2 separate regions of the Homo sapiens genome follow, and region 1 is linked to region 2. Evidence: fine-mapped expression QTL. A gene starts in region 2. The other region holds a variant in brackets. All regions are shown on one strand. Distances are from middle to middle.

Evidence for each region.
Region 1: its variant is fine-mapped to the expression of SMIM43 in lung (TOPMed, PIP 0.99).

Annotation. Positions count from the first base shown.
Region 1 is chr4:121,737,596-121,745,936 of GRCh38, forward strand. No RefSeq gene overlaps it. Among named protein-coding and RNA genes, the nearest start is that of PP12613, 23 kb to the right of the region's middle. The variant CT/C (reference allele first, on the strand shown) is at 3,371.
Region 2 is chr4:121,760,093-121,768,433 of GRCh38, forward strand. SMIM43 (small integral membrane protein 43) reads right to left here and starts at 5,072. Exons shown (of 6, transcript NM_001384332.1): 1 at 4,725-5,072; 2 at 3,672-3,780; 3 at 2,635-2,706; 4 at 1,738-1,800; 5 at 1,446-1,603; 6 at 1-382. The coding sequence starts at 5,013. The coding sequence ends at 4,822. PP12613 (a long non-coding RNA gene) reads left to right here and starts at 4,493. Exons shown (of 1, transcript NR_024365.1): 1 at 4,493-6,716. RefSeq lists an enhancer at 917-1,086.

The sequences.
Region 1 (8,341 bases), 22 kb before region 2:
GAGGCAGGAGAATCGCTTGAACCCGGGAGGTGGAGGCTGCAGTGAGCCGAGATCGCGCCACTGCACTCCAACCTGGGCAACAGAGCGAGACTCGTCTCAAAAAAAAAAAAAAAAAAAAGGAAAAAAAAAATCAGTGAGGCTATGAAGTTAATGCAATTTAACAAATATGGAGAGCAGCTCAGATCTTGTTATACGTCATAAAATTCCTACAAGAGAAAGAATCCAGTTTGGATTATAGCTTTGAAAAAAATGTATCATAATTCAGAGACTCTCTACACAGAAGAAAACGTGTAAGTATAATGAATGTGAAAAACATTTCAATTCCGTCTCACCCTTTACTGTCCATCACAGAACACACGCTGGAGAAGGCAGATGTGCGGTGACCCCAGAAACATCCTCGCCAGGGCTCTGCTTTGCCTCATGTCAGCAGCCTTGCTGGGCAGAAACCTCACACACATAATGAATGTGGAACCCTCCAGGCCCCATGAACATCAGAGGGCTCGCGCTGGAAATATTTAGATCCTGGCATTGCTTCTCTCTCCTCTCAACTACTCAGATGCTCGTTATCTCTGTGTTCATAGATTTTTGGCTCTTGATTATGTTTTAGTTAGGTCAAAAAGTCTGCTGACATTGATCAAATCCTACTACTACTACTAACTTTTAATGGTTCATCTGAGCCTACTGAATATAGTCAGAACTCTCCAAAATGTCTCTGTGTGCATTCTGAAATTCTGAGCAGGAGGCTGAAGGACCTCAGGGCATGGGGTGTGTTTTCATCTTTCATTCCAAGAGAAGTCTGTGACTTTGCAAGATTAAAGAGGATGTGAGAAGTAACCAGCCGGCTTTCTTTATGGATAGGGGTGAATTTGGATTTCTGGAACAGTGGACTCTTGTGGAGGCTGGACTATTTTTGCATAAGCTGGAAAGAATACATTCGGCAGAAAAGTGCCAACCTGACATTTGCAGGGAAGGAAAAAATGCCCAGATACAACTGTACACATATGAAGAATACCAGGAATCACATGGGAAGAACAATAGCATAGGAGCAGACTAATAAGTCTTGGCAGAAACAAGGAAGTGGATTAGGAACAATACCATGACTTCAGATATCTATATAGATTATCAAAGTAAAGGTTAATTCATAATACATCTAATGAATTTAAAATTTTAGCAAAAGGAGAGGAATACTGTGTCAAACAAAAGAAGATATTGTGAAATGGGACAAAAAAGTAAGAATGCAGTGATGAAGACTACTTTACCTAGCAGAAACACTAGGTAACATGATCAGTAACTATACATCACATATGGTCACATATGTTCAAGGTGTTTCTCAAGTATTATTATCTGCCTTTTCAGATGGGGAAACTGAGGCACAGAGAGGCAGTCACGTGATCAATCTAGGATTTAAATGCAACAGCCTGGCTCCAGTATCTAAGCACTGCCTCTCTAATAGAGTAGAGCTAGCCAACAGAGAGTGAGAGAAATTCATATACTAGAGAATGGAATCAATCATTGTGAGATCATTTCAGTTGCAAATAAAATGAGAGAAAAAAAGTGAAATTCATGTAAGACAGGCATCCTGGGCAGGCATTAGATAAAATAATGCAGTTTAATTCAGAGAAATAGCTGGCACAGAGACAAAATGTAGTACTGATTGATTATTTCAGCTGTTAGAAAATCTGTTGTCCAAATGTCCTCCCTTCCTCTGTGTGGGTTCTGAGAAGCCACAGCTGGTGAAGGCAGTTTTGCGTCAAAGCTGCAAGGAATGTGGAGGAATCATGGAGAACAGGGTGAGAACCACAAGTTTAGGGGCTGGCTGGCAAATGGTCCTCTTTTCAAAAAGCAGACAGAGTGGGCTGGGGTGAGGAGAGGAGTCTGGAAATTATGAAAGAACAAGTTTAATGTCAATCCATATCAAAATTCTATGTTTAAAAATAGAGTCTGTGAGCATTTAGAAGTGCAGCCATCTGAAAACCACTAAGTCGTACTTTGTATTTTGTAGGAGTGGAGATCAAATTCCAAATGTAGGCCAATCATTTCCAGTTTCTTCACAGTAGATAAGACTGGCTAAAATCTACTGTGCCCACCAGGTTAGAAAGTACACCAGCTATCTCAGCATGGCTGTTTGTGTTGGCAATAAGGAATCTGGAATCAGTGACTTGCTGTCACTGACCAGACACCCAGTGAGCCCAGAGTAAAATTCTGATTTACAGCCTATTTCTATTCATCACCATGTTGGCCTAGACCGTATGACAAGGCTTCTAACTCACTTTTTTTGCCTAGCTCTCTAATTCCAGTTTGTCCTAGAGGCTTATCCTTTGCTCTAGTCCACTAGGTTCAGCTTCCTTTAGTCCTGGCCTCTGACCCAATGTAAATGGACTGATTATCCAGATGTACAATGCTACCCACTGCCTGGATACCTACTCTCAGGCTTCACCACATAAGTCTGCCTAAAATGTACACTAATTCAACACCTGTCTTTGAACACTGCATATGGTGGAGGCAGTCCGACTCAGACTTCCAGGGCCCCATCTTCATAAGGGTTCACAGCTTTCTCTGTCTCCCTGCAAGGCATCATCCATTGCCTTCCTGCAATATAAACTGATTCTCTTGGGCCGTAATAAGAAATGCCATAAGCATAGTAAAAAGTAGTTTTCCCCTGGTATCTGACAAAACTTCGTGATTTTCTATTGACAAGATGGGGAGATGTGGTGTGGATGATAGAACAGTTAGGTGGATTGATATCTAGCTGAAAACTAAACTCGAAGTGTCTTGAGAAATGAATCCACGTCAAACAGCCTAGAAGGAAGTATGGGCATGTTCTAAGCCTATATCTGACCCAAACTTAAACAATGATTTTGCCAGAAACCAGATAAAGACATAAAAGGCAAAAAAGTTAGCCAAGTTTCCTACGACAACAGCCTAAGAGAGTTAATATGTGGGATAACTGTATGAAGAAATTTTTATCATTTCCTTATTTGTCAACTATATGTCAATAAAGCAAAAAAATAATAAGTAAGGTTAGAAATCTAAGATTTTAACATCTCTTTACAAGTTGGAAAGTTGAGGTTTAATTAAAATCAACCAACCAACAACAAAAATAAAAACACCCTGACTATAAAAAAAAAAAAAAAGAAAAGAAAAAAGGAAAATACAAGCTGGGCCCAGAGCATCTTGTAAGAAAGTAAAGAGTGCTCACAAAAAGAAAGGGTGGAATACATAAAAGAAATGCAGGAGCCAACCCCAAAGAGCTCACCGCCCGCATACAAACAACCATCATCTTTCCCCTGGATTGTGGCTGGGGCCTCCAAACAACCATCATCTTTCTCCTGGATTGTGGGTGGGGCCTCCTAAACCGGTTTCCCTGGCT[CT/C]ATTCTTGCCCTTTCAAGTCACTTCTCAACATAGCAGAGTGACCTAACCCATTATTCCTTCACTTGAAAGCACTAACCCATCATTCCTCCTCTTGAAACTGTCCAATGGCTCCCCATCACACTCAGAATAAAGCCCAACGTTTGTACCATGGTCCACAAGGCCCTCCACTTGCTGCTGCTTTCTCCCTCAGCACCCCTTCAGGCGCCAGCCCCTGCTGGCTCCCTCCACAGTGGCCGGCCTGCTGCACCTCCATTATGTCAGGCAAGCTCCTGCCTTAGAGCCTTCGCATTCCCTATTCCCTCTGCCTAGAAGGGCTTCCCCCAGATGCCCACAGTGCCGGCTCCTGTGCCTCCTTCAATCCCTCACTCAACTCTCATCTCACGGCGGCCTACCCTGACCACCTATTTGACTACAGCTTTTCAAGGGCCCCTTACGCTGCTCGACTTTCTCCTTTTTCATAGCAGTGTCTCCTTCTAATGGCACAAGATAATTTGCTAATTATGTTTTATGTTTCTTTTCTGTCTCCCTGCTCTAGACTGTAAGTTCCTAAAGGCAGGAATCATCTATTTTTTTCAGCCATGTACCCGATAACCCAGAACAGTACCTGACACTTTGTAGGTACTCAATGTACCTACAATATTTGCTGAATAAATTAATGGTTTAGCTGTTAATTAATTAGTCATTAATTAGCTAAAGAGACGTCCCTTTAGGTTGCTTCTATTCCTTTGCTTTTAACATCGATATCCTTATACATGTCTCTAGTGTGTATGTATGTTTCTCTATAAAGATAGGAAAAGGTGGAATTACTGATTACGTGCAGTTTAAATGTCAATAGATACTGCCAAATTGCCCTTCAATGTATCCATTCAGATTCACATTCCTACCATAGTGTGTGAGGACTTGTTTACCCGAGCCAACAGCATCACTTTTTAAGTGGAATATAATCTAACTGGAGGGCTGCCAGAGGGAGCAAACAGAACGGTAGAGTCTGGCACTCTCTAAAAGAAACTTCGTCTGTTTAACCTAGAGAAGAGAAAATTCTGAAGAGCTCTCGTGAAAGAAGAATTCTAATTATTCTTTGACATCCTAGTGCTGTAAAATCCTGCCTTCCCAGACCTACCCACAGGGCAACTTGACTCGTACTTGTTTCTGAATTCCATGACCTTCCCTGTTCCTAACGATGCTAATGAATTCAATTATTTGTGTATTGACCAAGGGGCAAAATACCAGATAAATTCTCTGTCTTTTTTGATATCATGTTTGCTAAGGAGCTGACTTCATATCATAAAGTAGTTGTTGTAACAATGTAACAATTTCGTCTCACTTTTTGTTGTTTGAATCCCAATATTAAGATGACATATACTAGATAAAAATGTTCTAATTGCCAATTAGCTTGTTCAATCTCATCAATAACTTTAAACTACAAGAATAAAATTTTTTAATCTATCAGATTGGAAAATATAAAAAAGGTCATGTACTGTTACGTAGAGTATAAATGATTACAACTCTGGAAATCAATCTAACAATGACAGAAATATAAAATGTGCACATGCTTTAAGTCAAAAATTCTATTTTTAGGAGTTATCCTAAGGAAAGAATTATGGACGTGGACAAGGACTTAGCTAATAAGGGCTTCCAAATTCATTCATTTATACTAATGAAAAAATTTAAATAAAATATCCATCTATACAAGGTTTGTTATGCAAATTATGTTACTAAGTTTAATGGAATACATGCAGCCATTAAAATTTTGAAGTAGGTCTGTGTGCTGGGTATTTCCCCACTGACCCTCCAGATCTATCTTTCACCCTTTTCCACCCTACCTTGTGTCCTAGGAGGGGTATCAATGGGCTCCCTCATCCTCTGGTTTTGTCTGGGTTTGACCACTGGGAAGCAATGGTAGAAAATGAATCGTTGGAAGGAATGAGGGGTCTGAGTATTCCTTCCCTTTCTTCCCTCCCTGTTGAGTCACCAAGCGCTGGCTGTGTTTTCCAAAGACCCTGGTTCCTGTCAAGCGGATATTTCCCACCACTACTCTCCTGGGTCCTGGCAACTGCCCCTCCTTTCACCTCTCTAGACCCAGGGCTGGTAATAGCTCCAGCTCCCCACTGTGGCTGTCCCTGAGGTGCTTGCCCAGTCTCTGCTGGTTCCCTAAACCCTGTCCACAGTCCTATAATGCAGCTTTAATTTCTGCCATCCAGTATTGAAAGTTCAACAAATGGAGAGGAGAAACATACCACATTTTTGGTTCTGCATTTTCATCCTATTTTGATGTACAAAATTGTACATCAAAACATAGATTGTGTAAGGGACACAAAAAAATTAGTTATACACAACATTTAAAATGCACAGAAAGTTGAAGTTTTCTGTATTAGCTATTGTATCTTGCTTTGAGAATGTTATTTAAAAAGAAAGCAGATCAAGCTAAGAAGCAAAGAATAAAGAGTAATCCATTACAAAACACTATTATAACCAAATAGGAAAGTGTCCTGAAGTGTTAGAGTGATAGTAAAGACCCACAGACAACCATGGACTTAAATTAAGCAGTAAAAATCCCATTGAGAGAAGAAATACCAGCTACCTAATCAATCACATGATTACTTTCTCTAATAGACTTAAAAAATAAAATATATATGGTAATCAGCCCTAATTTTAAAACTTCAGGAAGACTTTTAAATAATAAGAATAGCACTTTTTTCAATATTAACACATTTATTATACATTATGTTTCAATACAAATTTTCTAAATATGATAATGTATCATATTATCAAGGTTAACTTTTAAACATTAATTATTTAGATTATAGATGGGATAAGAACAATCTGCAAGCAGCATTGGGATTTATTTTCACAGGTAATAGGAGTTTCCTCCAGCTACAAGGCAGAAGTTATCTTCCAAATCTGTTTTATAAAATGCAGATCAAAGCCAATGAGTGGGTCCTGAAATCAATTTAGTGGATAGAGTGAGAGGGGGCAAGTAGTATTTTTTAATGACATAAAATGACTAGAATAGAATTAGAATAAAACAGAAAGTATCAGAGTGCCTTTCACTTAAGTGTACCGTATAATGAAACTTGTATTTCATTTATTTTCATGTGCACTGGGTCACAAGGCAAAATGCATTTCTTACTGGGTCTTGGTCAAAACCTTTTGAAAGCCTCTGTTCTAGTCTGTGCTAACCTCTAACAATTTCACTGCTTTCAGCCAAGGTTACAGTACAACTAATAAAAGCAGCAGACAGAAGTAAAGGTGAAGATCAAAACAGAACAAATTTATAGCAAATGTGTTAGGGTAGAGAACATTTTAATGTTATTATCCTAAAAGGAATCTTTAGACTGATAAAAGCTATGGTATTTAACTGTCATGGCTATAATGGCCTTAGCTATAACTTCTGAATCTCAGTGGGAATGGTAGGGGAATAACTGTATTGCACAACTGGTAACTTACCTTTTCTGATATTTCTCCAAGAGAGGCTGTTCATTAAATTACTTTAAATAAATATCTGGTGTGATTGCAGACAACATGATTCAAATTAAAAAGTAAGGCAGATAAAAACTGTCACACATTATTGAGAAAAGCAATTACAAAAAACAGCACTAGAATAGGTTCCAAATTATGACTCGAAAAATAATAAAAATATGTTATATATATGAAAAAGATAGGAAAATCAATTAAGGGCATAGGATTATGGAATATCTTTAATAAGTGTCTGAATACTTATACTGAGTACACATTACTTTTATATTCAGAAAAAGAAATAAGGATATATTTGCAATATTCTTCAAAAAAGAAAGCAAAAAGTCACGTGGAAAGCTCTCCATCTCAAGAATTCTTGGGACCCAGGTTTTCCAGAGTCAAGCAAATCCTGCCTTTGAGCATTACAACTGGACCAGGGTGGTGAGGCCTCTTCCCCTGAAGGCATGTCAGATATCCAAATATTAGGTTCAAAAACAATTTCACAGGCCAGGCCCTGTGGCTCATGCCTGTAATTCCAGCGCTTTGCAGGGCCAAGGCGGGAGGATCACTTGAGGTCAGGAGTTTGAGACCAGCCTGGCCAACATGGTGAAACCCTGTCTCTACAAAAAATACAGAAATTAGCCGGGTGTGGTGGCACGCGCATGTAGTCCCAGCTTCTTGGGAGGCTGAGGCAGGAGAATCGCTGGAACCCAGGAGGTGGAGGTTGCAGTGAGCCGAGATCCCACCGCTGCACTCCGGCCTGGGTGACAGAGTGAGACTCTGGCATTAAAAAAAAAAAGAAAAAAAATTCACAAGTGGTTTTCCTAAATTTTATTTTATTTATTTATTTTTTTAAATGTCCCACAAATATTTTATTATCATTATCATTATTATTATTATTATACTTTAAGTTCTAGGGTACATGTGCACAACGTGCAGATTTGTTACATAGGTATACATGTACTATGTTGGTTTGCTGCACCCATCAACTCGTCATTTACATTAGGTATTTTTCCTAATGCTATCCTTCCCCAAGGCCCCAGTGTGTGATGTTCCCCACCCTGTGTCCATGTGTTCTCATTGTTCAACTCCCACTTATGAGTGAGAACATGTGATGTTTGGTTTTCTGTCCTTGTGATAGTTTGCTGAAAATGATGGTTTCCAGCTTCATCCGTGTCCCTGCAAAGGACATGTACTCATCCTTTTTTATGGCTGCATAGTATTCAATGGTATATATGTGCCACATTTTCTTTTTTTTTTTTAATTATACTTTAAGTTCTAGGATACATGTGCACAACGTGCAGATTTGTTACATATGTATACATGTGCCATGTTGGTGTGCTGCACCCAGTAACTCATCATTTACATTGGGTATATCTCCTAATGCTTTCCCTCCCCCCTTCCCCTGACCCACAACAGGCCCGAGTGTGTGATGTTCCCCTTCCTGTGTTCAAGTGTTCTCATTGTTCAATTCTCACCTGTGAGTGAGAACATGCAGTGTTTGGTTTTTCGT
Region 2 (8,341 bases):
TGCTGCTTGGAGCTTTGACAGTTGTGAAGGAACTAGAGTTTTGATCTTTTTGAACTTTATGCTCCTCTGCAACTGTATTCTGTAGCCAGGGCATAAAATGTTAGTTGTCCTCCCAAGATCCACCATCATCTTCTTCTTCATCAAGAGAAACTGGATTTTTGTCAAAGGCAGTTATATATCCAGCTACAAAAACTACATTTCTCAGACAATCTTGCAGATAGCAGTAGCCAATGACACAGTTCTGGCCAATGAGATGAAGGCAAAAGTTATTGGGCTGCTGAGGAAGCTCTTTAAAAGGAAGTGGATTTGAACTGGCATGCCCCGTTTTCTCTGTGGGCTTCCTCCTTCTTCTTGTGGGGTGCTGCGGGGACCATCTTGGAACCTGGAGGAAAAAGCCAAGGGAACCTCAGCAGCCACCTTAATTAAGCCTGACACCCGTGAGCTGCTGAACCAGCACCAGCAGCTGCCTGCCTCTAACCTCCTTGTTCTGTGAGAAAAGAACAAACCCTCTAATTTATTTAAGCCGCTCTTCAGTCCAGAACTTCCTATTCCATTACCAAGATAAAAATTCATCTTGATTCCCAATAGGAAAGTGTGATTTTTCATCTGAAAGGAAAAGACATCTTGCTTGAAGAATCTGTACCTATTCAATAAATTCAAGTAACTTCAGAGTCATACTAATAAAACAAAAGTCGCAGATAATGGTTTTAGCTCAAACCCACCCATGTCCTTCAGGATCTGTCTATACAGACCAAGAATGGCAGAAATGTTTGGGCTTATTATATAAAAAGCTACTATTAAGGAAAAAAACAAGGTTTTTTTAACCTTAATCCATCAGAAAGCTTTTTCTGCATGCTTATTAAGTTCTGATTACTGGGTCTGAACGCCCTTCTGATAATCCACCTTCCGGTATGGGAAGATGCTCATGACTCAGATACTTAATCAGATCATTATTAACCCATAACATTATTTATTTTGTGTAGACAAAATAAAAAGTGGAGGACTGAGAAATTTATTTCACTGATTCAAACAAAAAAAAAAAACTACATCAAAGATTTACAACTCAATTCTTAACCTTCTCTTGTATGTGACACAGACATCTGACAGTGACATTCTAATGATCCTAGAGTTTTAATTGTGGATTTAGCTTAAATATGCACGAATATCTCAGAGTAGCTGTAAAAATTAAAAACAAAGTACAGCACTGTGTAGATACCTTATGCATTACATTAGTATCTTTAGTGTTCTAACAGTCTCTAGATTAGTAAGTGTGACTTAGAAAACAACAAACATTTCCCACTATTCTAAATGGTTTAACCATTTACAAACTTTAAAATTTTGGTCATTTAAAATTTAACTCTATTGCACTGATTTTGAAACTATAGACAAAATTGGAAATATAGAATGTCAAACTAAAAATAGAGTATTTCATATTTTTTACTCACCTAGTTCCAAGTTTCCACCCCTGCAAGCGAACCAAAAACAAATCCTGGCACCTTGCCATTCCCAGAAAAGCCAGTGCATGGCACACTCTGGGTAAATTTTCTCTCTTATTCTGTAGAATCGCACCAGATGGCATCAGTTCTGCATCTACAGCTGTGCCCTAAAATTGAAGTTCAGACATAGGAATCTACTTTATTAGACATTTTAGATTTTGCAGGTGTGAGTGTGATGTCATTCTCATTCAACTTAAAATGGTTATCTTGCCAAGTAGAACTGCAGATCCATTGCACTTACAAGTTTGGAAATTAGTGCAACAGCCAAGATTGTCCTGATAAGATCTGAAGCCATTTTGAACACCTGAAATTTAGAAACAATGATGAAATAATAACATTTGAAATAAAATACAAATATTACATAATAGAATTATGGCTCATTTCCTTATAATGTAAGAAATTCAAGTCACCTTCTAACATTGCTGAAGAATCACTAAAAACCTTTTTATTGAAAATAAAACACAGGAATCTTCTATAATCAAGTTACATTTATATAATAAGCAGTTATGTTAAATGTTCTTGACTTTTCAAGTGCTTTAATGTCTAGCTCATATATATACAGTCTTTAAAAATAGATTTGGCACATAGTGATTGTCAGAACAGGGGATCGTCAGGGGATGGAGTAGCCAACATGTAGAAGCCTGCAACCTAGACCATTGTGGGTGTCAGAGTATTTGATCTAAGCCAAAAATGCATAAAGGTGGCCAAAATTGTGAGTTTGAAAGTAGTTCTAATTTGAGAGATCAGTCTATGTCAGGTCTTGGAAAAATGATGATTGAATAAATAAATAAACAGCAAAAGACAGCTCATCTACAGCTGTCAAAGTTTCAAAAGCAGAGTCTCTAACAAAGCAAGTGCAGGGCAGGAGATCAACAGCAGCAAGATCTAAGAGCAAATGTGAGTTACCTTAATTCCCAGAGCTTAGAGTCAAGTTCCAAGCAGAGGTTGAGTAATAGGAATAAATATTCATTGTGGCCTGGATAAATGGGAACTTGGTCATTAATGAATTTGATTACAAGGAGTTAATAAAATGGCCCTGGATACAAGATAGAAAGGCACCCCTGCTTTCTTAGGAACCTGAGTCAGTAGAACCAGCTGAGAGATTGGATTAATACTGAGATGGTAATAAACTACTCACCCTGACTTTTCAATAGTCTCTTGTTTAGGAAGAATGATGGGCAGGTTAAATTCATGGATACCAGTGGTGCTGCTAGGAAGATTAAAGGATTGTAAACTCAAGAAGGCAAGCATGTGGTTAAAATAATTTCCATTCTGGTTATTCTAAAGTGTGAAATGATTGTTTTCAATCCTTACAAACAACTATAATTGCTAATTAATTACTCCCACACTCATCTTCAATGTCCATATTAACCATACAACCTTTTAACTAAATGCCACTGCAGAGATATCAACCAATTAGAGAACTATTGTTCAAAGCACAATACAGAATCACTGCAGTTGATTCAGGGAGTTCAAACTGGGAATTCAAATCAAGTCTTACCATAACTCTGATAAAGAGGTGAGGATTTGCTCATACCATAATAATTAAAGTAAACCTCTTACTTCATTAAGAACAGGCCTATTTGGGGAGAGTGAAATAGAAAGTGGGAAATTATCTAATGTCTTGGGCCAAAATTATTCACCTGAGACTATTTTTCCTTTGAAGCATTAAAATAATTGTCTTACACTTCACTTTTATATTATCAACTTAGGCAAACTTTAGTATTTCATTGTTTTTAGCCTCTCTATATGGTCTTTGTGTCTAAAATTAGTATTTTCAATACTATAGTTATGACTTAGCTTATCCCACACTGACATGACTAAACCCAAATCTTCCCTTACTGAAGATTGAGTATATCTGCATCACATATTTCACCCCATGAACCCCCGCACTGTTTTTCAAAAGGGCCGAATGATTATTAAAAGTGCAAACACTCCTGACATCTCATTCAAATTTCCACAATCCTCTACTAAGACACTGATTCTTGCAATGAGTTAGGAGTCAGTTTGGCTTTGTGGATCTGGTAGAAGCTCACCAGATTTGAGTGGGAGAGTGCCCTTTCCTTCCTTGTACCCATTTCCCCCATCCTGAACCAACATGTTTTTAGGCCCTGGATCTTTAGAAGTTTAGTCATAACTAAGGCCAACGTGAAACCATGCGTCATCCCAACTTACCATTTGCAGAAAGCTTCCATCTCCCGTTGTTCCAGCCTTCTTTTTGCAGGCCCAAACTGTCATTGCAGCTGTGGTCCCCTGAGCACCAGTCAAGGGCAGCAGCTCGGCTCTAGAAAGAGAGATGACATAAATCTAGGGAAAAGCTACTGAAGGATGAAGATATTTCCCAAACTAACATTAGCGAGAGGGTACTTAGGGCATACTGGTACTCGAGTTTGCTCCTGCCCGCCCATCTTCTGCAAAAGCTCTAGTAATTTAACCTGAAACCACAGACCCGCCTCTCCGTCCTTTTTCCTGTTTCCCTACACTATGCAAACAGTACCTCTTTTAGCTGGCCCTCCATGCCATCACCCAAAAGGTCACGTACCGGCCAACCCTAAGGCATCTTCCAAATGACTCTCACTGTAACGTTCACCATCCGCTGTCCCAGATTCGAAACCTACCCTGCACGGCAATCCGCAAGCACTAACCGTGGTTGGTGGCTAGAATATGAGTAAGGATCACCGGGAGGAAGGGATTCCTCCCTCCAAATGGACGACTGAATCTTCTCTCCCCCACGCCCCACCCCAGCACCACCAGACGAACCCCATTTACCATCTCTCAAAGCGCAAAAATATTTAAAGCAATATTTAAAATACTTTAAGTGCGCCCCGTTTCCTCCTGCCACCCGTCCCAAAGCCCACACAGTCTTTCTCAAAAATGTGGATATTCAGGTTAACCTGCGATTTTGTTCGAAAGTGGCTAAACTGCATTATCCGAATAATTTACTTTTCCACTCCTTGGGTATAACTAAAATGCAGTTGGACAGAAAAGAGCTTGCAGTTGTCCAAAGTCATTCCGGCTCCAAAGGGCGAATTCTCTTTTCGCCATCTCTCCCAGCCCTGGAACAGCTTAGGGTCCCTCTCGAAGAGCACAGCGCCAGCCCAGACCCCATACACCCACCGTCCCTGGCACCCGAACGCGCTGCGAGCCCCGGGCCTCCCACAGGAGCGGAGACGCGGGTCCCTGCGCCTCACGCCGGAACGGACCCGTCAGAGCCGCCGAGCCCCGCACCTGGAAGCTGGGAGGCCGCGAGGACGGAGAATCGAGGCGGAGACCCAGCCCAGCGCCCGCGCAGCTCGGTGCCCTCCCGCCAGTGCCCGCACTCGGGTCACACCGCTTGCTCTCGGGAGAAGCCCCAAGGCTCGCGGTGCACCGAGAGGCGCCCGGGCTGGAGCGCCCCGGCCGTGTTGGCCACGGAGTTCTTCAGCTGCTTGATGACCACGAAGAGCAGGAGGAAAAGTAAGAAGAGCAGGAAGAAGAAGAGCGCCAGGTAGAGCAGCAAGTTGAGTTCCCACTCCATGCTGGAGGCGCCGGCGCTCGCTGGCCCTGCGCGCTCGGCGCGGGCTGCAGCTGGAGGGCGAGCGCGCCGCCCGCACACCCACCTCCCGCACTCCCGCCCCTCGCGAGGGCGTCCCGCTATGGGCGCCGACTCCGGGGTCCGTGCTTTGCCTCCCCCGGCTCCGAGGAAACGCGCCAAGGAGCTGAGGAAATCCGGCGCAGACTCTCCCAGCTGGCACCAAAGCCTTCCGCTTCGCCGAGATCCTCTCAGGTGCTCTTGAGGACGCGAGCGACTTCCCTAGGAGCGAACTTCCGCGGGCACGGACGCCAGAAGAGGTAACAGCTCAGTCTTCCAGGGGAGGTCGGGACTGGTGTTTTGTAAATGATTTAAAAGTTCCACCCCCAACATCCAGTAGGGTCCCTAGCTCCGCTGCGTTCCCAATTAATTTATTTCGTTATATCCCTCCGTTCCTGCTTTCCGAAAGGACAGGGGATGTCATGGCCCAGAGACCCAAAAGAATGAAAGGTGGCAGTGAAGATGGGGTCTGAAAGGCTATGAGATGATTTCGTGCTATGAGGTGTCTGAGTGAATTCCAGTTCGAGCTGTCTTGCTCTTCAGAGTAGCAGATACATTCAGTGTTGAGTGTACTTTTCTATGGACAACAGGTCACTTGGAAACGCATTAAGAATACAATGTATTTCAGAAGTTATATAGCACAAAGATTTCAAATATTGGCCTCAAATTCAGTTTATTTGGTGAAAAGAGGAAAACAAGTTTACTCAAAGTGTTTCTTGAGTCCCTAAAGCCTTTCTGTATCTGGTTGACGTGACCCAAAGCCCATATCGCGCAGCTTTAAAAGCTGTTCAGTGTATCTATTACTGCAGAACAAATTACCCCCAAATTTAGTGGCTTCAAACAGCATAAACATTGATCATCTCTCACAGTTTCTGTGGGTCCGAAATGTGGGAGCACTGGCTGGGTGATTCTGGTGTCGGGTTACTCATGAGGCTCCGTTCAGATGTCAGCCAGGTCTGCCTTCAGCTGAATGCTTGTGTAGAGGTGGAGGATCCACTTCCAGGGTGGCTCACTCACTGCTTGCCAGGTAGGGCTGGTTGTTGGTGGGAGGCCTCAGTTCCCTTCCATGGGTGCTTCCAATACAGCTGCGGGATTCCCCCAGAACAAGTGATGAAAGAAAACAAAGCAGAGGCTGCAGTGCTCTTTACCGCCAGCTTCAGAAGTCACGTGCCATCAGATCTGTAATATCCTACTGGTCACACAGGTCAGCCCTATTCAGGGTAGGAGTCCAAGGACACGAACGCCAAGGAGTAAGGATCACTGGGGCTCATCTTAGAGTCGGCTATGACAGCTGTTAATACAGCCAGCTATCATTGCCCATTTGTAGGCCTAACTTTATTTTATTCTTTATTTGTGAAGATGCAGAATTGCCTCCTGGACTGAATTCTGGGGATGAGGGCTGACAACATCCCAGATTGTAATAAGTGGCTGCTCCAGGGATGACAGGGGTTCAAAGAGACAGGGTGGTATGAAAACAGTCTGTGAACTGCAAGTCTCATGGACCCGATTCTAGTGTCAGCTCTGTCAGTGGTCACTTTTGCTCAGTGACTCTCAGTCCCCTCATCTGTAACATGCCTTGCTTATCTTTCCCTTGGATTTGTTGTGAGGCTCAAAAATGAGAAAATGTTAAATAAAAATGTGTTTTGCTATATAAATGTCAGATACTGTTATTATTCTATTACGAAGGGCCCCCAATGCTACAAGCTATTGTACAAAATTTCCAGGCCCTAGGCCTCTCCATCAAGCATCTTAGTGCATAAGTGAGAAGAATCTTTCTTTCATTTTCTCTTTGTCTCTCTCTCAATAACATTATATTGATCCACTTCATAGGCAGTGGTATGCTGGAGCTGGCTCGTAATGACTCACAGGAGCTGATTGTTAAATTTTGTAAACCAATTTTTAAATTCCAGCTATTATTAAAAGTTAAATTATATAAACCTACAATTATGTTAACAACAAAGGTAATTAATACTCCAAACTCATCACTTTCTAATTATTTTATTAGGTTGGTAAAAAGGCAATCACGGTTTTTGTCATTAAAAGCAAAAACCGTGATTGCTTTTGCACCAACCTCAGTACTACATTTCACTGCTGTCTATGCACTTGAGGTTATTTACATCTGTTGTAGCTGTGTGGTGAAGATGCTGCATAGTGGTATGTTACTGCGCATCTCTTCCCAGCTGTGTTCAGTGCTGTCATGTTGGTAGCTTGAAATTAGCCATGATGAGTGGGTTTGCCTTGAGAAAATGGACAAATGCTACAAATCAGGACCAGGGAGGCAGTTGTTAAATTAACCAGCACAACACTGCTCGTGGGACTATTGAGAGAAATTTGAAGTCTTATACAAGTTTAGCAAAGATTTGTGATTTTTTTTTTTTGACTGCCCAGAATCCACACACCTCCACTCTAAGCACCACATGTTCCTACGGGTGGAATTCTCCATTTTATGTAATCTTGGCAAGAAGACAGATCCCAGTGCCTACTTTCCCTTGCCACCTCCTGTTATGGAAACCAAGGGGATCAGATATATCTTTTACCCACTCCTGATACAGTGTGGGGAGGAGGGCAGGAAGAGCTATGCCAGAAATTTAGCTAAATATCCTTGTCTCCAGTACTCTGAATCTTGGGAGTTGACAGAACAGGAGGAATGTTCGGAAGTCAGATGCATCCCCGTTGCACAGGCAATCTGAGTGCCAGAACAGTCCCAAGAGTGACCTAGCCATGGCTACTGCTACCTGCTTCGACAGCATCCTCAACTCCTGGCCCAGACTGGGCCCTCCTGCTTTCTTTCCATTCCGTAACCTTCCACTGGCTTTCCAGGAAATCTTGCTGCGAGGCAGAGTGGTTAGCGCCAGTTTTCAAAGGAGAATGCTAACCAATTAAGAAAGCATTGCTTAAGTACTTTGCACATGTTAAGCACTCTTAATTAACGAGGTGTTTGGTCGGAAAGGCATGTGATTTGGCACATTGCCATCCAGATATCCAAGGTATCTAAGGATGAAAACTGAAGCATGGAGAGGTTAAGTGACTTGCTGAAGACCACACCGCTGGCAAGTGGCAGGAGAGGGATGTGAACCCAGGAAGTCTGGCTCCAGAGCCTGCACTCCCAACCCTCATGATTGTACTGCCTCTCAGGGAAAAGTATACTTTTGTGTGCATGACCATCAAATTAATCACCATATTTTTTTCTTTTGAGCGTCAGACTAAAAAGAAACACATTTCAAGAGACATATGCCTTCTGCATCTCAGCTCCTACTTTTGAAATCTTGAAGGT